Linked DNA regions of Homo sapiens: regions 1 and 2 are each reported to be linked to region 3. Evidence: microRNA targets listed by miRTarBase, many of them from high-throughput screens and not tested one by one. Region 3 holds a microRNA gene; each other region holds the end of a gene's coding sequence.

The links. Region 3 holds the annotated microRNA hsa-miR-5581-3p (UUCCAUGCCUCCUAGAAGUUCC, at 2,546-2,567, shown strand). A microRNA usually pairs through its seed, bases 2 to 8, with sites in the 3' UTR of a target mRNA and lowers its output. Matches are read on the target gene's strand: a 7mer-m8 pairs with bases 2 to 8, a 7mer-A1 pairs with bases 2 to 7 and ends in A, and an 8mer does both.
Region 1: miRTarBase lists DNAJB6 as a target of hsa-miR-5581-3p. The part of its 3' UTR that is shown has no 7-base or 8-base seed match.
Region 2: miRTarBase lists ZDHHC14 as a target of hsa-miR-5581-3p. Seed matches in the 3' UTR shown: 8mer at 6,237-6,244.

Annotation. Positions count from the first base shown.
Region 1 is chr7:157,414,848-157,422,482 of GRCh38, reverse strand. DNAJB6 (DnaJ heat shock protein family (Hsp40) member B6) reads right to left here. Exons shown (of 10, transcript NM_058246.4): 10 at 5,044-6,467. The coding sequence ends at 6,385. Among named protein-coding and RNA genes, the nearest start is that of DNAJB6, 82 kb to the right of the region's middle.
Region 2 is chr6:157,671,698-157,679,332 of GRCh38, forward strand. It overlaps ZDHHC14 (zDHHC palmitoyltransferase 14), which reads left to right. Exons shown (of 9, transcript NM_024630.3): 9 at 1,027-6,460. The coding sequence ends at 1,425. Among named protein-coding and RNA genes, the nearest start is that of MIR3692, 150 kb to the left of the region's middle.
Region 3 is chr1:37,495,867-37,503,501 of GRCh38, reverse strand. MIR5581 (microRNA 5581) reads left to right here and starts at 2,508; the gene lies at 2,508-2,567. MEAF6 (MYST/Esa1 associated factor 6) reads left to right here. Exons shown (of 7, transcript NM_001270875.3): 5 at 1,506-1,698; 6 at 7,584-7,617.

The DNA.
Region 1 (7,635 bases), not on the chromosome of region 3:
CCGCGTCTCCTGCCCCACGCACGGGTTGTGCTGGGCCCAGATGTGTGACTGCAGGTCCTACGGCCCCCAGGACCTGCACAGGGGGCAGAGGATCCAGGTGAGCAACTCGGGGCGGGGGCAGGGGCAGGTCCGGAATGCGGCAGGTCTGCCGGTGAGGCGCACGGCCCTCCAGACGCCCAGGAAGGAAAAGCAAAGGCGGGAGTGAAGGATCGCCTCATGTTTATTTAAATATTATGTAATTAAGTTATAAATAAAAGTAACTTTTGTTTATGTTTAATGTATTGAAATGGAAGGAAATAAAAACAAATGGAAATGAAAGCCCATTGGGGCAGGTGCGGAAGCCGGACTCCCCTGAGGGCGCCTTGTTTGTGAATTCTGCTTTGGAACCATGCACATATTTACAGCAAACATTTCTTAAATCCTAGACGTTGAAAGTAAAAGAAAATAAATGAAGCTAAGGGTCTACGGAGTTGTTGGCTTAGCCACACCAAGAGGGATTATCTCAAGATTTATGCATCCCAGTGTCACAGCCTGAGAACAACCATGGGGCCGGGCGCGGGGGCTCACCCCTGTCATCCCAGCACTGGGAGGCCGAGGCGGGTGGATCACCTGAGGTCAGGAGTTCGAGACCAGCCTGGCCAACGTGGCAAAACTCCGTCTCTACTAAAAATACAAAAATTAGCTGGGCGTGGTGGTGCATGCCTGTAATCCCAGCTACTCGGGAGGCTGAGGCAGGAGAATCGCTTGAACTGGGAGGCGGAGGTTGCAGTGAGCCGAGATCGCACCACTGCACTTTAGCCTGGGCGACAGAGCGAGACTCCGTCTCAAAAAAAAAAAAAAAAAAAAGAAAGAAAGAAAGAGAAAAAGGATCGAAGAGCTCTCTCTGAATTTTAAAAATTTTTTTAAATTTTTAAATTATTATATTTTCTATATATCAAATTTTCTATATGTCAAATAAGTAACTATGTTATGTATTAAGAACTAAAAATCTGGCTGGACGTGGTGGGCTCACACCTGTAATTCCAGCACTGTGGGAGGCCGAGGCGGGTGGATCACCTAAGACCAGGAGTTTGAGACCAGCCTGGCTGATATGGTAGAATCCCATCTGTACTAAAAATACAAAGTGAGCCGGGCGTGGTGGTGGGCACTTGTAATCCCAGCTACTCGGGAGGCTGAGGCAGGAGAATCACTAGAACCCGAGAGTTGGAGGTTGCAGTGAGCCGAGATCACACCACTGCACTCCGGCCTGGGTGACACAGCGAGACCATCTGAAAAAAAAAAAAAAAATTCAAATTCTCAGAGTAAAAGAAAAAAATCTGATATAAAATCTAAATAGTGAAAACCCTGTAATCCTAAATTTGAACTGGAAATATTAATATAAATTCTTTATATTATATATCCTAATATGAATTTTCTCTTTAAAAAATACTCTCTCCCTCCGTCCACAGAGGCAGCCTTGGGGTCTCCAGGCAGGACCCAGAGCAGCCGAGGCCCTGAGGCCAGCACGAACTGCAGGCACCGAGGAGTCTGTCGCCCCAGGATGCGGCCATCCGAGCTTCCAAGGGCAATGGCCTCAACCGTGAAACACCACAAGTGCGATCACAGCTTGTGGGCTCACGATGGAACTAACAGAGCCGCTGGTCACCTCGGGGTCCTCGGAGGAGCCAGGGAGCCAGCCAGTGGCTCTAGACACTGGGACTCGGGAAAAACAAGAATGTGCGGGGCCTTTTGAAGCAGAAACTGTACCTCTGGGACCCAAGCAGTGGATAAGGGAAAATCCGTCTTTACAGAATTCCAGCTAAGAAATTTGGAGGAAAGGCAGGTCAGATATTGACAGATGAAGTCATGCATAGCCCAGGACTTACTTCAAAACATGATGGCGGGTGCGGTGGCTCACGCCTATAATCCCGGCACTTTGGGAGGCCGAGGCAGGTGGATCACTTGAGGTCAGGAGTTCGAGACCAGCCTGGCCAATATGGTGAAACCCCCGTCTCTACTAAAGATACAAAAATTAGCCGGGCACGGTGGCGGGCGCCTGTAGTCCCCACTACTCCGGAGGCTGAGGCAGGAGAATCGCTTGAACCCAGGAGGCAGAAGTTGCAGTCAGCCGAATCACACCACTGCACTCCAGCCTGGGCCACAGAGCAAGACTCTGTCTCAAAACAAAAACAAAAACAAAAAAACATGATGGGGAGGGGGTGCAGATACACAAGAGGGGCGGGCGCTGTGCACCTCTGGGCCAGGGAGAGGGATTCATTTCTACAGTTACCTGTTCCAAGCACACAATTTGGACATTAAGATTTTTCATAATAAAAGGTAAAAGCGTACAGAGACCTAATACACGTGACGACTAAATGCAATGTGTAGTCTTGACTGAAGTCTAGTTTAAAAACATCACAGCCCGGGGAGACTGATTTGAGTAACAATAAAACTCCAGTCTCCTGCAAAAAAAAAAAAAAAAAAAACAAACAAAAAAATTACGGGCCAGGCACAGTGGCTCACGCCTGTAATCTCAATACTTTGGGAGGCTGAGGCAGGCAGATTGCTTGAGCCCAGGAGTTTGAGACCAGCCTGGATGATATGGTGAAATCCTGTCTCTATAAAAAATTTAAAAATTAGCCAGGCATGGTGGTACAGCTGTAGCCCCAGCATGTTGGGAGGCTGAGGTGGGAGGATCGCTTGAGCCCAGGAGATCAAGGTACAGTGTGCTATGATTGAACCACTGCACTCCAGCCTGGGTGCCAAAGTGAGACTCTGCCTCAAAAAAGAAAAGAATAAAAGTAAATAGTTTCTGAAAATGGACTGAGAAGTAGCTGGCATGGGGGAATTACTAATTTTCTGAGGTGTGATAACGGTGCCACGGCTCTCCCGCCTAGGTGACGGAGTGAGACTCCATTGCAAAAAAACAAACAAACAAAAACAAAACAAAATGTGTTAAACACAGGTGTGGTTATTCACGTCATGGTCCCACTTTTCCAGGCCTATGAACAAAAGAGCAGAGAGCTCTCCCTGGTGACGGCGCCACGTCCTGGTTCTGTCTCCAGCTGTGCAACCCACATGAGGGAAGGCACGTGGGACCCCCAGGTTAGGGTTAGGGTGTGAACGTTTCAGGATGTTTAAATGTATTTACTTACAGAAAGTGGGTTCTGCAGCCCTTTATGCCCCTGACAAAAGTGAATGGCGTACAGGGTGGCCCTGGGATTGGCAGTGGGGTGGCCAGGAAGCCCCACTGTGGTCCTGACACCCCCAGGACTCCCCACCCCAGTCCCACAACTGCAGTCCCTGCCACACCGTCCACAGCCCCCCTGCCTCCCACCCACCAGCACCTCACTGCCTTCCCCACCCCCCGCAGGGCCCCCCAGTGCTTGGGACGTCACAAAGGTGACGACGACAGGTGCCGCGCTCCCCCTTGCCATCATCTCAGCAGCTGCCGAGCACACCCAGGGGCCGGGCTCCCTCTCCACCCCCTCAGCAGACGCTGGCATAAGCAGCCGCGGGCTCTATCTGCAGCATCCACCCCCTCAGCAGACGCTGGCATAAGCAGCCGCGGGCTCTATCTGCAGCACAGAGCTCCTGGACCCGCCCTAGGGGGATGGGGCGCTGGGCGCAGGGGTCGGGTAGACCCCAATACCCCTCCTCACCTGAGAAGCAGATGCCTACCTGCTGGCCATGCACCTGCCGGGCCCCATGGACACCAGCTCCCTTCTCCTCCTGGGGTCGGGGTCTCTCCCTCTCAGCGAAGGGAGGACCCACCTGTGACATGAGCTGACTCGGTAGCCAGGCCGTGTGAAGACGGGGCTCTGGCCCCTTTGCCAAGAGCCTGTCTTGTGTGTGGCCTGGCTTGTCTGGAAGGCGCTCGCGGCTCTGTCCACGCTCCCTAGCTGTGCCCCTGCTGAGGCAGCCCGGCCACGCTCCTGGGACGGCCTGAGGGTCAAGTGGGCAGGGTTGAGGGCACAACAGTCACCTCTAAACCTGTCGAACCACCTGCCTCCCTCGCCACAATCTCAGCAGCAGATTCTGGGATCTGAGCAGTTGAGAAGGACTAATCTTGTTTTAAAAACACCCCCGACCCCGGCCCGCAAGGCGACTTACTGCACCGCCTTCCCCTGTCACCAGGAAGGCCGGACGCCAGGATGTCAGCACTGAGCGCGTGTCTGGCCCAGTCTTGGTCGCCAGCAGAGCCAGGGTGAGTCGACGAGGTTTTCCTCTCGGGACCCTCAATGCCTCCTGTGAAGGCTGCGGGAGTTTCCACCTCATCTGTGCGTTGGGGTGTTACTTTTTTGTTGTTGTTGTTGTTTTGAGATAGAGTCTCGCTCTCTCTAGAGTGCCGTGACGCAATCTGGACTCATTGAAAGCTCTGCCTCCCGGGTTCACGCCATTCTCCTGCCTCAGCCTCCCAAGGAGCTGGGACTACAGGCACCCGCCACCACGCCCGGCTAATTTTTTGTATTTTTTAGTAGAGACGGGGTTTCACCGTGTTAGCCAGGATGGTCTGGATCTCCTGACCTCGTGATCCACCCGCCTCGGCCTCCCAAAGTGCTGGGATTACAGGCGTGAGCCACCGTGCCCGGCCTTTTTTTTTTGAGACGGAGTCTCGTTCTGTCTCCCGGCTAGAGTGCAGTGGTGCGATCTTGGCTCACTGCAAGCTCCGCCTCCCTCGTTCAAGAAATTCTCGTGCCTCAGCCTCCCGAATAGCTGGGATTGTAGGCGTGTGCCACCACACCCGGCTAATTTTTTGTATTTTTAGTAGAGATGGGGTTTCACCATGTTGGCCAGGCTAGTCTTGAACTCCTGATCTCAGGTGATCTGCCCACCTTGGCCTCCCACAGTGCTGGGATTACAGGCGTGAGCCACTTTGCCCAGCCGGGGGTGTTAGCTTTAAAGTCATGTTTTCGCCTTACAGTGACGCATTTCGGAAGCAAGGCTTCTGCCTGCAAAACACCACTTTCATCCTTTGTAATCGTAATGTTGAAGAATTGCTTTTATTTCTAGTCAGTCTTAACGGTGCAACTTACTGGCGCTTACAAAGGACAGCAGGCGAGCTGTATTCAATATGCTTATGTTTTATTTATGTAGGTGGCATTTAAAATACATGATGTGTTTAGGGTTACATTGTCCACAGAAAGCATCAAATACCACTCCTCTCCCCGCCAAAACCAAATAAACAAAGCCAACTCTTTGGCAACAGTTGTGTTAAATAAAATCCCAGGTCACACTTGTTTCTGGCTCCCAAGCCTGGGTCACTGCTACATGGATTGCGCCAAAAAATTCCCAGCTTCAACACTGCTAGATTAAAATTGCTGGCATTTTTAAATCACAGCAAAGCTTTTCACAATGCCCTCAAGTCCAAGAGGACAAAGGAGAAAGCAACATGAACGGCAGATCCTCATGTGAAAGGGAAGGAAAGTCACTGGGAGGGAGCATGCAGGGAAGAAGTCAAGGCAGCCCTGGAATTCTACTCCGTGCTCAATAAAAACAAAACGTGAAGAAGCAATACATCATGCAAACGAAATAATGACCGGAAGTGGGCGCATCTAGTTAGAATGAAGTGACTTTCGTAAGGAGTCAATGTTCGCGAACTGAAACATGAGTTCAACCTCCTTGTGCCGTCTCTGGGTGTTTTGCGCGTGTGTAAATACCGGCCCGTTTTCCCCAGCATGGCCCTAACCCATGGACACTAGGGAGAGTGCCACTGAGCAAAAATTTTTTGCTAAAAATAATTAGCAAAAATCCAAGAAAAAAATATGGAATCTAGCAAAACCTACACCATATTTGAAGTTGAATTTGCACTACCTGCAAAGGATGAAAATTAAAAGAGTAAACAGAAGGAATGATTTTACATCTGATGTGATTCACGACAGCCTTCTATTCGTGTGGCCGGATTGCTCTGAGGAAAAGGTGCCCTGACGGGCAGGATTCAATGTGTCACTTGCAATATTCTCTAAGTTACACTCTACTGAATTACCTTCTAATTCCAAACACTACGCCGCCACAGAAAGCCTCATTTCATGAATGTTACTCAGTTAGCCATCTGCGCCCTCCTGTACTTCTAAAGCCAGAAATATTCCAGCAGCATGCGGAGTGGTTGAGTAGCCGAAAAGAATGAAGAGGATCCGGAAGCACTAGAGGAAAATGCAGCAGATTGAGAGCTGGAGAGAAGCAGAGAGTCGCGGCCAAGTCCCAAACGTCTGTCCCCGCCACCCGTGCCGTCAGCCCCGTCTCCTGACCCTGCTCTGACTGATCCGTGATCGCATAATCCTGCCGAGCGAGTGTGGCCTCGAGACAGTCCTGACCGACGCTGCTACCTAGCGCGTGTGCACGACCGCATGCCGAGCACGGTGGAGCGCCAGCGTCTGGGGGTGCACCGCGTGCCTCAAGTCCGGTCTAGTGATTGCCTTTGGTCGACTTCTTCTTCTTCGACTCCTCTCTCTGCTTCTGCTTCTTCCTCTTGCCACCTTCTTTCAATCCTAAGGAAACACGGCTTGTAAAACACTGTACGGAACAGCACTGCTTCCCCAGCAAGAGCCAAACATGTTTTCTAAATATCTCCCCATGTTAAGAACAAAAAGCAACAAAATGAAGTCATCTATCTTGGCCACAGCTAAACCTCAAAACGGGCGCTTTCCAAGGTGCACGTTGAGAACTGCTCACACTACCCAGAGAGCTTCACCACCCTGCAGAGAAGTGAGGACTCCCACCTACCCGAGTTCCGCCCAGCGGCAGAGCTAAAAGCCCACCCTGGGACTACCCCAGTTCTGCCCAGCGGCAGAGCTAGAAGCCCACCCTGGGCACGGCTGCACCTCAGTCCTGGAACCCCACCCTGGGACCTACCCCAGTTCCGCCCAGCGGCAGAGCTAGAAGCCCACCCTGGACACGGCTGCACCTCAGTCCCGGAACCCCACCCTGGGCTCTCCTTCAGAACGCACACTGGGCCTGCGCAAAGGTGTGCCCACCTGTGGGGAGGGTGTCCACAGGTGTCTCCTCCGCTTCCCCCGCTGGCCACAGTGCAGCCTTTCTGCAGGCAAAGCCTTGGTGTGGACTGGCCTCATGTTTGCCAGCTCTGTGCCATCCAGCGTGAGAAAGTCCCATTTCTTATTGAGGAAAGTCTTTCATTTCCCTGTTGCTAAAGTCAATGGCTGACACTGACTGATCCAGCTGAAGTGCATGGAGAAAGACGCCCACCCTCTGAACGTCTGATCCAACGTGCCAGAAATAAACACCTCTGGATTCATTTCTGCAGAAACTGTCTTGAACTCAGTGTGTGCCAACGTGGGTGCAGGAAACAGGCCCGATGTTGAATTTGGCCACAATTGTCAACATGACTGGGCAGAGGGAACATGGCCGGCAGCAGGCAGGGCAGGCCTGGGTCCCACACGCACAGGCCCTCAACCTGCCAGAACTCTCCAAAGACCCACACAACTTCACATGGTGGCATCGTGCCTCACAGGAAGGTGCCTGCTCACAGCCCTCTTGGGGGCCTGAGGCCCTGCCCACACTCAGGACTCGCCCCAGAGAATCACAATCATGGTAGGCCGGGTGCCAGGCTCCAATCAGATGCATTCCACACCCAGCTGACGGCCGCCACGCTGACCAACATGTCACAGGTGCAAGTCCACTGAGTGTGGCTCACACATG
Region 2 (7,635 bases), not on the chromosome of region 3:
GAACGCGTGGAAGAATAGGAAACGTCTTCTCAAACGTGGGCATTCTCAGACCACAGAGGCTTCGGGAATGGCTCTTGAAGCTGTTGGAAATTTAGCAGTGGGGAATTCTAGGCTTTTACCAAACAGTCTTTTCTTTTTTTGGTGGTAAAATAGACATGGCATAATATTTGCCACTTTAACCATTTGTAAGTATAAGTTCAGTAGTATTAAGTCCGTTGATGTTGTTCTGCAACCACCACTACCACCCATCTCCAGGGCTTCTTCATCTTCCATGGCTGGAACTCTGCATGCCTTAAACACCAGCTCCCTCTTCCTCCCGCCCCAGCAGCCACCATTCTTCCTTCTCTCTAAGAACATGACCCTCCAGGGACCTTGTTTGAGTGGAATCACACAGTTATTCGTCTTTTTGTGACTGGCTTGTTTCACTTAGCATGCTTTCCTCAAGGTCCACCCATCTCGTGGATGTGTCCGAATGCACTTCCTTTTTAAGGCTGAATCAGTAACACTGTGTGTCTACACCGCACCTTGTCCCTGCTGTCATCCATCAGTGGACACTTGAGTCACTTTTGACTTTTGACTTACTATCAATAACATTGCTATGAACATGGGTGTACAACTCCTGTATTTTTAAAACAATGTGGTTTAAAAAATGGTTTTCAGCATACAAGAAACAGCCACCCACTGCTGTAGATGGCCTGTGACTCTGTCCAAGAGATTTTTTTAATTATGTCCTTTAAATTGGGAACCAAGACCACTGGCTTCATAACCAGTGGCTGCATGTTATGACTGGGCACCCGTGGTGACTTCATTTGAGCAGAGGCAATTGCAGCACCAGGCGCTGGGTGTCTCTCCCAATGCACCTGGACCACTGTAGGCGCTCCCTGCCTGGCTGACTGAGGTGTCACTAACGGTTTCTCTCTTCTCGCACCCCACCCTCCCCGCCCGTGCCCTGTCCCCATCCCTGTCCCTCCCCACCTCTGCCCCCTCCTCTCCACCTTCTCTTTGCTGGCGCCTCCCGCTCTCCAGTGCGACCAAGACCAGTGCATTCAGAGCACCAAATTCGTTTTGCAGGCTGCAGCCACGCCCCTGCTGCAGAGCGAGCCCAGCCTCACCAGCGACGAGCTGCACCTGCCCGGGAAGCCTGGCCTGGGCACGCCCTGCGCCAGCCTCACACTGGGCCCGCCCACACCGCCCGCCTCCATGCCCAACCTCGCCGAGGCCACGCTCGCGGACGTGATGCCCCGGAAAGATGAGCACATGGGCCACCAGTTCCTGACGCCCGATGAGGCGCCCTCGCCCCCCAGGCTACTGGCGGCGGGCAGCCCCCTGGCGCACAGCCGCACCATGCACGTGCTGGGCCTGGCCAGCCAGGACTCCCTGCATGAGGACTCTGTGCGCGGCCTGGTGAAGCTCAGCTCCGTGTGACCCACATGGCCCCAGGCCGGGGGACACCAGAGGCTCCTCCATGGGCAGCAGGAGTGAGCGGAGGGGTGTGTCCCACAGCGACTTTCCCAGCCAATGCCACGGTGGAGATGACAGCCCCAGGTCTGGGGTACAGAGACCACTTAGGATGGCACAGGGTGGCTGGCCCCGGATGCTGAGAGCTTGGTTTCATTTGAATTTTCTTCCCCAACCTGAGTGCTTTGACAACAATGGAAATAGAGAAGTGGCTGCTTTCTTTTGGTGACCCTCCAGGGGTGGAATCGGAGTGTGTCTGCCCGCCCTTGTGACAGACACACGGAAGGCTTCTGACGCTTGTGGCCAGACTGCAATTGCACTTATGTGTTATGCTACTAATATTTGAAACAGACCTGCCATTCCATTTGTTAATTAAAAAAAAAAAAAATCCTAAAGGGAAAAAACCGACCAGGTGTGGATCTGCATGCCACGCTGCCGTCTGTGTTACAGTGGTGTTGCTATTTCCAAGGAAGTGCTGCTTTCTTTTTCTTTTTTTAATTTTGTGAATTTTCAAGTGCTGTTTTGTTGGAAGACAGTGCAACGAACTGAGACTAATGGACAGTGTCATCACTCAGCTTACTGGGCTGAGGCGTCTGTGGAGAGGTGGCACCGGGGCTGCAGAGGGCGGCTGGGGTTCCGTCGTGTCGGGTGTCACTTCACCTTCTGTTTGGCCGCTCGATGAGGTCTCGTGTTGAGATATTGTGTGCCACAACCCCCACAGTCTTCACCTCCGTGTGTGATGAAACTTCCCGTGGACAGCCAATAAAATGACGTCCTCTGTTATTTTGGATCTGCGTACGGTTATCCTTAATAGCATAAATGAAAACAAAGTCATCCAGATGGGGAGAGTTTTTCTTGAAATGTCCCTAGCGAGGAATGGTCCCCAGACAACCAAAAGTCAAATCTTTGAACTGGGAGATATTTATAGAATAATTTCTTAGATAAGAGGCAAGTTTTCCATCATTTATTTTCTTTAATTATCTCTTTTTGACACCATCTTAGTGGAATTTGCTCTACGTTTGCAGTTTGCCGTGCAACAGTTGATCGGAAGTAGGGAGAGGGGAGGGGACGCTCAGGGAGAAGGTTCTGTCGGGCGTCTTCTGGGCTTCCTTCTGTGTTAACGTGTCACTCAATCCCAGAAGTGCAACTTGAGGTCCTAGTAAAGGTATCAGAAAATGAGGAGGAGAAATCGGCTTACAGTCTAAGCTGAGATCATGTAGGTCATCATCCTTCCTAGACACTGATCAGAATGAAATTAAGAAAATGACCACTTTGTTCACTTTCATTGGTCACCTAGAAGGGAACGAACTGGCTCTGGACTTAGGGAGTGTGTCACTATGGGGGCAGCCACAGGGGACACAGCAACTCCTCTCCTGGCTTCTTTCCAGACCATAAATCTAACAGCTAAAGCTACTCAAGTTCAAAGCCATGGCCTTGCTCCTTATAACCATATGAAAGACAAGACACATTGACCAATGATACAAGTAACCCAAGTGATTTGCATTTATGGAAAAAGGCTATTACTCCTGAGAAAGAGTTGCCATTTTATATAAAAGAAAAGAAGATAGGAAAAAGAAAAGCACACAAGTTTTATTTGGAATGAAGGCAATTCACAGGTCACAAAATAATTCATGCTGAAAGGGCCTGCAGAGTTCTTGCACTGTGATGTCTTCGAGCCATCTTTATTGTCATGCTGCATGCACGTATAGAAAATGGAATAGGTCCATTCTATGTAGCCATTTTTGATTTTCTGAACCACCTAACTACTTGTACCCACCTGCAATGTGTAATTCATGGGGCAGTGCCCTCCTTACACAACCGCACACGCTCACAGGCACCAACTCACAGGGATTCTCCTTGTCCACGCTACCTGTGAGCCCAAAGTGACAGCCCCACAAAGGAGCTTCCACAACTTCCCAAACCGTCTCTGCTCCTTGCTTTCTTCCACCTGCTCCCCAGAGGCCCCAGGAAGGAGTTGGCCCTGATGAGAACGGTGCTCCATGGGTGACCGCGAATCCGGCTTAGCCCTCACTCCGGTCCCACGTGTGGCCCAGTCCATTCTCAGCTCATTCCCCTGGAAAGCAAGATCATGGTCTTCAGAGGCCTCCCGCTTCTAACATTTCCTAACTCAGTGGTTGCCACTCTCCTGTGACCAGCCCTTCTTCCCACCTCACTGTGAAAAATTCCCAGAAGCCAGGATCACGACTCACTTGTCTTCACATAATGGATATTTACTTAATATTTATTATCAATTTCCCCACCTCCAACCCTGTCCCTGGCACACACTTGGCATCATTTATCCAATAGGGGACTGGGAATTTTGGTGAAGTGAATCAAGGCTATTCAGGGTCAAGAGAGAGATTAACTTGAATGGGCCAATTTGCTAGATAATTAATGTCTTAAAAACCAAAACCAGAGAGAAGCCCACAGCCCTGTCCTCTGTGGCTTGAAAAAGAAACCCAGCATCAGAGGAATGAGCGATGATGCCCCCTGGGGCGCCCACTTCTGTTTGTCAGGAGGGATGGTCGGAGGGGCAGCTCACCTGGCGAGGTGATGGCTCTGCATTTCCCACGAACATATATGTGACATGTACATAAATATAAATACTTATGTTTATAAATGTTGAATGGTTCCTTCTAGCTGTGGCTGAGTAGACGTTGGTGTTTCTAACTTCTTTCAGTGTGTTAGAGATTGATTACATGCTAGCTATAAAAAGTAAAATAAATATTTTACCATGCTATTAAAGCTTGGACCATTATCAAACACACACAAACACACACTCATTCTGCTGTTTAAAAATTCATCTGCGTTCGTTCTCCCAGGAGTGCTCCAGGGAACCACAGGCTTCCCGGCACTTGAAGGCTGAACTGAGCGTGAGTGCCCTGGTCCCCAGGAAGCAGGCGGATGCTGCAGGAAGGTGGCAGACAGCCTGCATCCAGGAGGGCCCCAGGAAGTGGGGATGCTGCAGGAAGGCGGCACAAAGCCTGCATCCGGGAGGGCCCCAGGAAGCAGGGGGATGCTGCAGGAAGGTGGCAGACAGACTGCATCCAGGAGGGCACAGTGACCTGTCACTCCGTTCTGCAGAAATTGGCCCAGCAGTTGCGTTATGCCCAACCAAAAGATGCTCGTTCCAGCTTTCAAATGTGATGATTTCAGCCTGTGAGGACAATGCCATGTCCCCACCCTAAGCCAGCAAAATGCGAAATCTCTGTTCTGGCCCAGAATGGCACAAGGGAGGAGTCTTTGCAGAGTTCCACGCCACCCCCCAGCTTACTGCGGCCTTCACCGGCTCTGTCTAGGATTGCCAGCTGTGGTTCCAAGTGAGGAGCAAACCCATTTTATGAGCCATGTTCCTGCGGAGACCTGATGGGCCAGGCCTTCTGTGGCTTTGAAAACCCCTAAGCTCTTCACCTCCTGGGCCTAGGCCTTCTTGTCTGACTCAACAGCAAGAAAAATGAACTTGCCAAAATTGGCAGTAGGTGTCCTTGACACAGGGGCTTCTGATGGCATCGCCCAGAAAATGCTGGAACCAGAACTGGTCAGAGACTTTGAAGGGCACAGCCTGGCGGGCTACTCCCCAAGGGTCTCAGGTCTCTGCCCACCTGACTACCCTGCAGCAAACGCTTCTCTGTAACCTGACTTCTCCCTTCAGACCTCAGCCTACAACCATCCTCTTCATGCCAGGAACCAACTGCTTCTCAGCCTCGGCTTAGGGTCTTAAGTTCACCAGAAGGGATCGGGGTTTGCGTTGATATTATAAGGAATCTTCCCAGAAGGAGCTGCCCTTCATCCATCCACAAGAATACATTGAGTTCATTTAGTTCTTGACCAGGTAAGAAAAGAATAAAGGAGAACAAATATTAAATACTCTTTTCTAATTGATGCCTTACTACTGTTTTGAAGCTGAGCCGAAATCAAATTGATGTTTACATTTTCTATCAAGTACACATGAGCTGTGGGAGTCTAGCATATTCTTGTCCAAAAGAGAGAGACTTTCAAATGAATTCCTATTCCTCTTGGTCCCCTCCACCTATTTTGGAGGTCTGCATGTGGAGTTGTATGCTATTTTCCAAGGTACCTCATTTAAAAAAAAAAAAAAAAAAAAACTGCCTCTCATTTGTTCCCTTAAAACGTCTCTCTCTCTCATAAAACTAAGTTATCATTGAAATATTAAACGATCTGAAGCGTCTTTTTTTTTTTCAAATAAATGTCAAAGATGGTAATAGTTTGTAAATCAGTAAATCCTCTGTCCATCTGCCCATTGTCCATGGTCCTGATAATAGAGCCAAGATGGATTTTCACATGTAAGGTGTTAGTCCATTAATCCAGCCATTAAAAGTAGTTGGGAGATTGAAGATTAGATGGTTTCTGGAGCAACCGAATTTGCAGCTGCCACAAAACTAGATAAATAGCCACAACTGGAGTTATTTTTTGATCTCATAAACCCCAGGAATTACACACAGAATGGATTGAAAAGCAGACAAGCATCTTGTGCTATTGCAGAGACTTTTCTACCCAGGAAGTGTTGAATTTTTAAAAGAAACTTGATATTGGTGATAAAGGTATGAATGAACAACTCTCTTACTTGCCCTCGATGTTTCAAGATGCCTGGTGAAACCGAGAGGCCACATGGCATGTCCAAGGAGACATGCTTTCTGGGTTCTATATGAATAGAGATGGTTTTAGCCTGCAATTAAAAAAAAAAAAAAAAACGGTTGAAGCCTTGCTAACTTTTTCCCAGAGCATTCTGGGTTGATATTTCACAGTCAAACGTTTTGGCATGGAAAAAAAAAAAAGCATTTTAAACTCTTAGTGAATTCAAAGCTCTAAATCCAAACAATGGTGAACACATGTACATAACATTTCATGTTTTCAGAGATACGTATGCTTATTTAAGTGCCTTTCATGTTTTAATCAATGTTTGCAGAATTTATCTTAAACCTGAGATGAATTAAAAAATTTTTCTCCTTCAATAAAAACTGCTAATGGCATAAAATGTAAATTTCAGCCTTTATAAGGTAGATATCGTCTTGGTCAACAAGATGTGTGGGGAAGGGAGGAATCGACTTGCACTCAGTGAATATGCACGTTGTGGACACCCATCTGTATAAGGATGAGGGTTTTCTGATCGTAGATACCCAGATTGCTTTCCTCAGACGTGGTTCTCAAGTTTCAATTCTACTTTAGAGCAATGCAGAAATTTAAAGTCCCTAATCCAGCATGTTCTATATGCCACCTTTTAACACATGCACACGTGCGTGGGCACACACACACCAGCCTCACCAGAGAGGAACTGTGCTTGGCTACTCATAACAAAATCCCCAAATCACAGCAGCTTAGGAAAAGAAATGTCTTTTCTGTATGCAAAACAAGTGCAGAGGTAAGGCAATCCCGGGACATTGTGGTGGCTCTGCAGTGTCATCAATGTCCTGGCTTCCTTCTCTCTGTTCTGCCATTCTTAGCACTGGCTCTCATCCTCAAGGTCACTTCATGGTCACAATACAGCTGCTACAGTGCCAGCCATCAAAGCCATATCCTTAGGTTTTCTATTAAGTACGTATGAGCTGTACATATGAGTCTAGCATATTCTTTTCCAAAAGAGAGAGACTTTCAAATGAATTTCTTTTCCTCCTGGTTCCCTCCACCTATTCTGGAGGTCTGTGTGGCATTGTAAGCTGAAAGAAGGAGAAACGGGGAGGAGCAAAATGGGTACAGACACTTATGACTGCTCCCTTTAAAGAGCATTCCCAGAAACCCCAATCTATGATTTTTCCATGATTGAAATTAAGTCACATAACCACTGCTGGCTAAAAAGGAGGGTGGGAAGCTTGGTGTTTTAGCTGGGCACATTCCTGCTCCAAATAATATTGGAGGTCTGTTGGTCAGGAAGAAGGGGAAAATGAGCATTCACTAGATAATCACAATAGAAAATTCCATCTCCTCCATTAGTGCAAGAGTGACACCCTCCAGCTAGAGCTCTGTCATCCTTCTCTTCCCCACTAAAAAGTTCTGCCTCATCCATCTACTGTTCTCTCCCTTTAGAGAGCATTCCTACCTGCTAAAGTAGGCTTGACCCCATCTCCTGCATGACCCAGGACCCAGCCCCTTCTCTCCTCCGTGACCCAGGACCCAGCCCCTTCTCTCCTCCATGACACGGGACCCAGCCCCTTCTCTCCT
Region 3 (7,635 bases):
AATTTTTGTTTTTATAGAGATGAGGGTCTGGCTGTGTTGTCCAAGCTGGTCTTGAACATTTGGCCTCAAGCCATCCTCCTGCCTCAGCCTCCCAGAGCACTGGGATTGCAGGCATGAGATACTGTGCCTAATCTATAGTCTTAAAAATATATATGTTTATACAAGTTGTTATTGAGCTTGCTTTTATTAAGGTAATCTACAGTGATGTTTTAAAATTGAGAATATGTGTCAGCTGAAGATTATTACTGCATTTTAAAAGTATTCTTAGCAGAATGCGTGGCTCATGCCTGTAATCTCAGCAGTTTGGGAGGTTGAAGCAGGAGGACTGCTTAAGCCCAGGAGTTTGAGACCAGCCTGGGCAACATAGTAAGACCCCATCTTTAAAAAAAAAAGTATCCAAGTGTGGTGGCATGTGCCGGTAGTTCCAGCTACTGGGGAGGCTGAGATGGGAGGATAATTTGAACCCAGGAGTTTGAGGCTGCCATGAGCTATGATCACACCAGTTCACACCAGTGCACTCTAGCCTGGGTGACAGAGTGAGATCTTGTCTCGAAATAAAATGAAATAAAATAAAACTTACCAGGCTGGGTGTGGTGGCTCATGCCTGTAATCTCAGCACTTTGGAAGGCTGAGGCAGGTGGATCTCTTGAGCCTAGGAGTTCAAGACCAGCCTGGGCAACATGGCAAAACCACATCTCTACAAAAAATAGAAAAATTAGCAGGGCTTATGCTTATGGGCACCTGCAGTCCCAGCTACTTGGGAGGCTGAGGTGTAAGGATCATCTGAGCCCAGGAACTGAAGGCTGCTGTGAACAGAGATTCCACCACTGCACTCCAGCCTAGGTGACAGAGTGAGACCCTGTCTTAAAAAAAAAAAAAAAAAAAAGACTTACGAGGTTCAAGTTCAACAGAGCTTAAAGGTTAAACAAACAAACAAAAAAAAAACAAGAAAAAACAATGGAAAACTTATCAGAGTAATTCAGGAATGGGCTGTCTTCTCCCTCTTTGGCCCCCCCTTTTTTTTTGTACAGTCACTGTAGTTTTTTTTGTACATCACTGTAGATTACATTTAATAAAAGCAAACTCAATAACAACTTGTGTAAACATATATATTTTTAAGACTATAGATCAGGCACAGTATCTCATGCCTGTGATCCCAGTGCTCTGGGAGGCTGAGGCAGGAGGATGGTTTGAGGCCAAGTGTTCAAGACCAGCTTGGACAACACAGCCAGACTCTCATCTCTATAAAAACAAAAACTGCCCTTAGAGCTGTTCTCTCTGGTTACATTGTTTCAGATTACATGCTTTTTCAGGACCTTTGGTCACTTGGATCCTTTGTATGTATCTTCTCTGTCAACATGTATCTTCTCTGTCAACATGTATCTTCTCTGTCAATTAGAGGATAGGGAATGGTTTTTTTCTACCTATTAGTGTTCATGTTGATGGACAGATTGCCTGAGGAGTACTGATGATGCATTTGGAAACTTGTGTTTTATTTCCTTCAGGGGAGCCAGGAAGTGGGACGGAAAGTGACACTTCTCCAGACTTCCACAATCAGGAAAATGAGCCCAGCCAGGAGGACCCTGAGGATCTGGATGGATCTGTGCAGGGAGTGAAACCTCAGAAGGCTGCTTCTTCTACTTCCTCAGGGAGTCACCACAGCAGCCATAAAAAGCGAAAGAATAAAAACCGGCACAGGTCAGTGGCAGGGATCCCACCCCCGCAGCTCCCATGACCATTGCTGTGAAGGGAATTGCCTAGAATAAAAACTCTTTAGGATTGCTGCAGACTCTTTCTGTTGCTGATGGCAAGAAAGTCATTAGGTCCAAGTGAACGGGCTAATTTGCTCAAAGGGAGGAATTGGTGGGCATTAGAGTAACCCTCAAGGAAGACTCCAGGACATTCTTCTCACTGTTTCTAGTGTAGAATAGTTTTATTCCATAAAAACCTTGTTTCATATGGTGAATATGGAATACTTTTAGAAGAGGAAAAGGAGAAATAGAAATGGAATCTGTGTAATAGTATTTGAAAAATGCCACTGGTACTTATTGGGAAGCTGTAAAGTGGGATAAAGTCTTCTGCTGGTAATTCTGATCTTTGCCTACTCTTATTTCTTTGTGGATGGAGAGAACTGATTTGACATGCCTTTTTTTCTCTTTAAATACAAGTTTTTTTTATTGCTTGTGATTTTTCTGTTTCTGTATTTCTCAGCAATATGCTGACTTCAGATACTGGAGGAACAGTATAAAGCCTGTAAAATATGAGAGTGTCTTCATAGGTAACGTGTAACATTGGTGCACCATGTTTTTTTGCAGTACATAATGAGATAGGAATGACGTCAGTGGACAGAGAGGCCAGGTGTCACCCAGAGAGGGTTTCAGCATTCACTCTGCCTGGGGTTTGTATGATCATGCTGGGGATTGTTAACTCAGATAATTGGAAATTATGCAGCTTGACCTAAAGAGTATAATGTCCGGTTTCTAGAGTAAGGAGTTTTGCTGGCCTCAAGCCTTCCAGGAGAAATGGAGACCCTATACATACCTGTTTCCATGCCTCCTAGAAGTTCCGAAGCCAGGGTAAGAGTTCTCATTCTAGAAACTGTACATTCGTTCTACTCCTCCTGGAAGACTGCGTGCTGAGCAGGTGAAAGGGGGCAATGCAAGGGATGGGTGGCATTCCCTGTTCTCCAGTTTGCTTCTGGATTTGGTTTACAAATCTGTAGGGTATTCCTTCATGCACCCAAGGTATTAAACTTGTTAGCTTCATGGATATGACAGTGCCTGGGGGTAATGTAGGATTAACTCTACCTGATTTGAACCTCCTTGATTGGCGTCAGCTGGTTCTTCAATTATTTTAAGAGTTTTTCTTGTTGATGGTAATGGTGTTTTCTAGACTGCAGAAATAGTATTTCCTTCAAATAATGACTGAGGACTGCTGCTTAACATTTTTCTGCAAACCAGAAGTCACCATCCTAATCGCATAACTGTAGTAAGAATTAGCAAAAATTGTATATCTACCTCTTCATATATTTTTGAAAGGCTATAGGTTATTTGACCAACTGTAGTAAGACTGGTGCTAGCTTATCACGAATAACAGAGAAATATATTCTTAAAAATTTTTTTAATTGTCAAGATAATTAAATGTCATGCTCTGTATTGCTTTTATTAAATTTACTCCAGTGTCATTTTTTTTTAATTTTTTATTTTTTTCAGACAGTCTTGCTCTGTCACCCAGGCTGGAGTGCAGTGGCACGATCTCAGCCCCTGCAGCCTCTGCTTCCTGGGTTCAAACGATTCTCCTGCCTCAGCCTCCTGAGTAGCTGGGATTACAGGCGTGCACCACTGTGCCCAGCTAATTTTTGTATTTTTAGTAGAGACACGTTTCACTGTGTTGGTGTGAACTACTGGCCTCAGGTGATCCACCTGCCTCGGCCTCCCAAAGTGCTGGGATTACTGGCATGAGCCACGGTGTCTGGCCTAGTGTCATTTTAAAGTAGTGATTATTTTCTTATTTCATAGTGTCTAGAGTAGGGAGGAAACTCTTTGAAAGTTTCGGGGACTTTTTCCCATTACTGATTAATAGTCTGTAGATAGCTGTTTATTTCAGGTAGTTCTTCATTTCCACTAATGATGTTATTAGCTGGTGACTGATAAAAAGGAGTTAAAGAGGAGCTAAACTTCATTTTCTTCTTGCAAGTTTCTAGCACATTTCCATAGGAACAATACTTCTTCCTATCCTAGGAGCTATCTCCTTCCAGAAAAATAGTAGTAGTTGTAAAAATCTTCGATATTAGTTACTGCTTCGCAAATAGTGTTTTCTGTTTGGAAAGCAGAATCCTGCTTTTTATTGCTGTCCTTTTGTCTTCCCTCTGATTTAATATCTGGCTGATCTCCCTTGGCCTTAGGCACTCATCTGCCCCAAGAAAGGAGAGTGAAGCTGATTTGTTTCCTTTCTAGGGAAGCAAAATTCAGTGTGCCTGAATGGCACACGAGCGGTCAGTTAAGGCTCTTGGACTCCTGCCATCTTTAGTCAGGAATTGTGTCTGCTCCAAGTCCCTTACTACTGCTGACTGATATCTCAGTAGGGCTGGCAGATTGGGGTGGGGACAGAGCATGGTGTCTATGTACATTGTTAAGTTTGTACCCAGTATAGTACATGTTTATCCTCCAGTGTGCCATACCCCATATAGTGAGATGAGTCAATAATAAATTATTTCAGCAAATGTTTGAGTACTTACTGTGTGCCAGACACTGTTTAGTGGTGAGCAAAGGTGGAAATAAATATGGCACTTAAGCAAAAGGAAATAACTTGAATTTGCCCTCTTCAGGAATATGAAATTTTTTTTTTTCTTGAAACAAGGTCTTGCTGGATTGCCCAGGCTGGAGTGCAGTGGTGAGATCATGGGTCATTGCAGCTTTGACCTCCTGGGCTCAGGCAATCCTCCCACCTCATCCTCCTAAGTAGCTGGGAGTACAGGCATGTGCCACCATGCCTAGCTAGTTTCTGTATTGTTTTGTAGAGATGGGGTTTTGCCATGCTGCACAGGCTGGTCTTGAACTCCTAGGCTTGATCCTCCTGCCTCGGCCTCCCAAAGTGCTGGGTTTACAGGCATGAACCACACCACACCCCGCCAGAATATAAAAATTTATCAAATAATTTTTAGCATCCATAAGTGATCACATTGTTCTGAATTCTTATATTTTACATGATACCTGAACAGTATGTCATTCCTGGTATCTTTAAAGAAAAAGTTGAAATAATACCATATAGTGGCCAGGTGCTGTGGCTCATACCTGTAATTCCAGCAATTTGGGAGGCTGAGGTGGAGGGATCACTTGAGTCTAGGAGTTCGAGACCAGCCGGGGGCAACATGGCGAGACTCCCGTCTCTACAAAAAAACACAGTAATTAACTGGACGTGATGGCATGCCTGTAGTCTCAGCTACTTGGAAAGATGAGATGAGGCTGGAGGATTGCTTGAGCCCAGGAGGTTGAAGCTTCAGTGAGCTACTGCACTTCATCCTGGGTGACAGAGGAAGACCCTGTCTCAGTAATAGTAATAATAATAATAATAATAATAATAATAATAATAAAAAATAACATAGCTACTCTTATAAGTTTCTGTTACTATAAAAAATTACTTTAGATAGTCTGTAAAGTTTTGATTAACTAGATACAGTCTATTTTGATTTGTGAACAAAGTCAAGTCAGGCTGAAAGTGAAATATTTGATAATTCCTAGTTTCATACACCTACTGTATACTCTCCCAAATGTCTAAAGTGAAACTATTTTGTGAGAGATATTGACATTAAGCTTTCTTCCAGCTTTACTCTTGCAAACATTGTCTAGGAGGAAATGTAGCCATTTGCATATTGTTTTAGCACCTAAATGTAGCCATTTGCTTATTGTTTTAGTCTGGAAGGTGTTGGAGCCGGTGAAGGAGCAGGTGTCATGCTCCAGGTTAATGTTTGCTTTGGAGGCCTGCCCAGATCATGGCCTGCTAGTGGTGATGGCACAAAATGGTCTCCTTCTCTGTACTGCTCCTTCCAGATCCCTGAGACTTGGGTGCTTGTGGATGGCAGCTTTCCCTTGTTTTAATAGGGGTGCTGCAGGCTGGGTGCAGTGGCTCATGCCTGTAATCCCAGCACTTTAGGGGGCCGAGGCAGATGGATCACCTGAGGTCAGGAGTTCGAGACCAGCTTGGCCAACATGGTGAAACCCTGTCTCTACTAAAAATACAAAAATTAGCTGGACCTAGTGGCAGGCGCCTGTAATCCCAGCTGCTAGGGAGGCTGAGACAGGAGAATCGTTTGAACCCAGGAGGCGGAGGTTACAGTGAGCCAAGATTGCGCCATTGCACTCCAGCCTGGGTGACAAGAGCAAAACTCTGTCTCAAAAAATAAATAAATAAATAAATAAATAAATACGGGTGCTGCAGACTTTTGTGTTTCTTAATTATAGCCCTGATATAGACAGTTAATTGCCATCACCTACTTAGGTGGCAGAGCAATACTGTTCTTCATTTTCTGGAACAAGGTTCCACCACTGAAGTTTATTCATTCAACTTTGGGCTTTTAGGATGAATGCTGTAGAAAAGGAGCATGGTGTTCCCTGGACATGTTTAGAACATATAACTTGAGGGAGGCTGAGGCAGGAGAATGGCGTGAACCCGGGAGGCAGAGCTTGCAGTGAGCCAAGATCGCCGCCCCTGCACTCCAGCCTGGGTGCCAGAGCGAGACTCCGTTTCAAACAAACAAACAAACAAACAAACAAACCCATATAACTTGAGTAAAAATTTGTGAAATGTTTTCCTTTTTTAAAGTTTAGACTGTGTTGTAGTTTTTTATTTTAGTGAAAGTATATTATGCTGAGTTGTTAGCACTCTCTTCAAAGTGCCTTTCATTATATAACTAAACCTTTCTTTCTCTGTTTCTTCTAATGCCCTAATTATATTTTTCAATACAATTAAATATTTTAAAAGTTCTAACTCCGAATTTGGCAGCTAATAAAAGGGCTCCAGGTGTCTGAGTTTTCTAATGAAATAACTTTTTCTTTCATAGTCTAGTCTTCTGATATGAAATCCATTGAAGGAAGGGAATCTTCTGACCACAAAATCTTTGGTGCTTTGATGTTTGATACTTTGTTGCTTAAGATTCTTAAAGCTGATTTTGTTTCTACAATTCTTGCTAGGGTGGCTAATCGACTAATTTATTCAATTAGTATATTAATTTCTATTGCTTTCTTCCTTTCAAATGCTGCCCCTCAGCCCGTCTGGCATGTTTGATTATGACTTTGAGTAAGTTTGATTTGAATTAGTATTTGTGCTGTGTTTAGTGTGTAGACACCAGTATGCCTTTTTGAGACCTTTCTAACCCATAGTTTATCTGTTTAATTGTAGGTATGTATATTAGGTTAGGCTGGGAAGTTTTTTTTAAAAACAGAAAAACGTGATGGAGGTAACATTTTATTTAATAACTTAAGCAAAATTAAGTAAACTTCACTTTTATGCATTTTAATTTCTTTTAAAATAGATAACCTTTACTTTAACTCATATTTAAATTGATTTTCTGGCTTTGCTTCATAAGGAGAATAATAGCTTAAGATCTTGATATTTTGCTTTGGAAAGATTTAAAAATTGAAATTAATTTAATTTATTTTGTGTTTCGTGTTCAGAAATACAAACTCCTAGTCTCTTTCCTGTTGTTAATCACCATGTGTCTCAGTAATTTTCAGTGATATAGTTACAGAACTAACACATTAACATAGAGCATGCCCTCTTACTTCAGTCTTTTTAACATGTAGTTTTGGAATTGTTTTAAAATTATATGGCTTTTGTAGCTGCTGTATACATTTCTTTTTAGAGTCAGCTAAGTTTGCCTTAGGGCAAAAATGTGTGCTCATAATTTTTAATACTTGCTTGATAATATCTGGGTAAACAACTAAATATGACATAGTCTAATGAAGAATGTGGATTTTTCTTAACCAAATAGTCTTTGTTATAGCTTATGCCCTATGCAGTAGCTGATTGTGGGACCCATTTTCTGTAAATTAAAATGGAAATATCTTTTATCTTTTCTGTCACAGGATTGATCTGAAGTTAAACAAAAAACCACGAGCTGTAAGTATCAGCCGGACC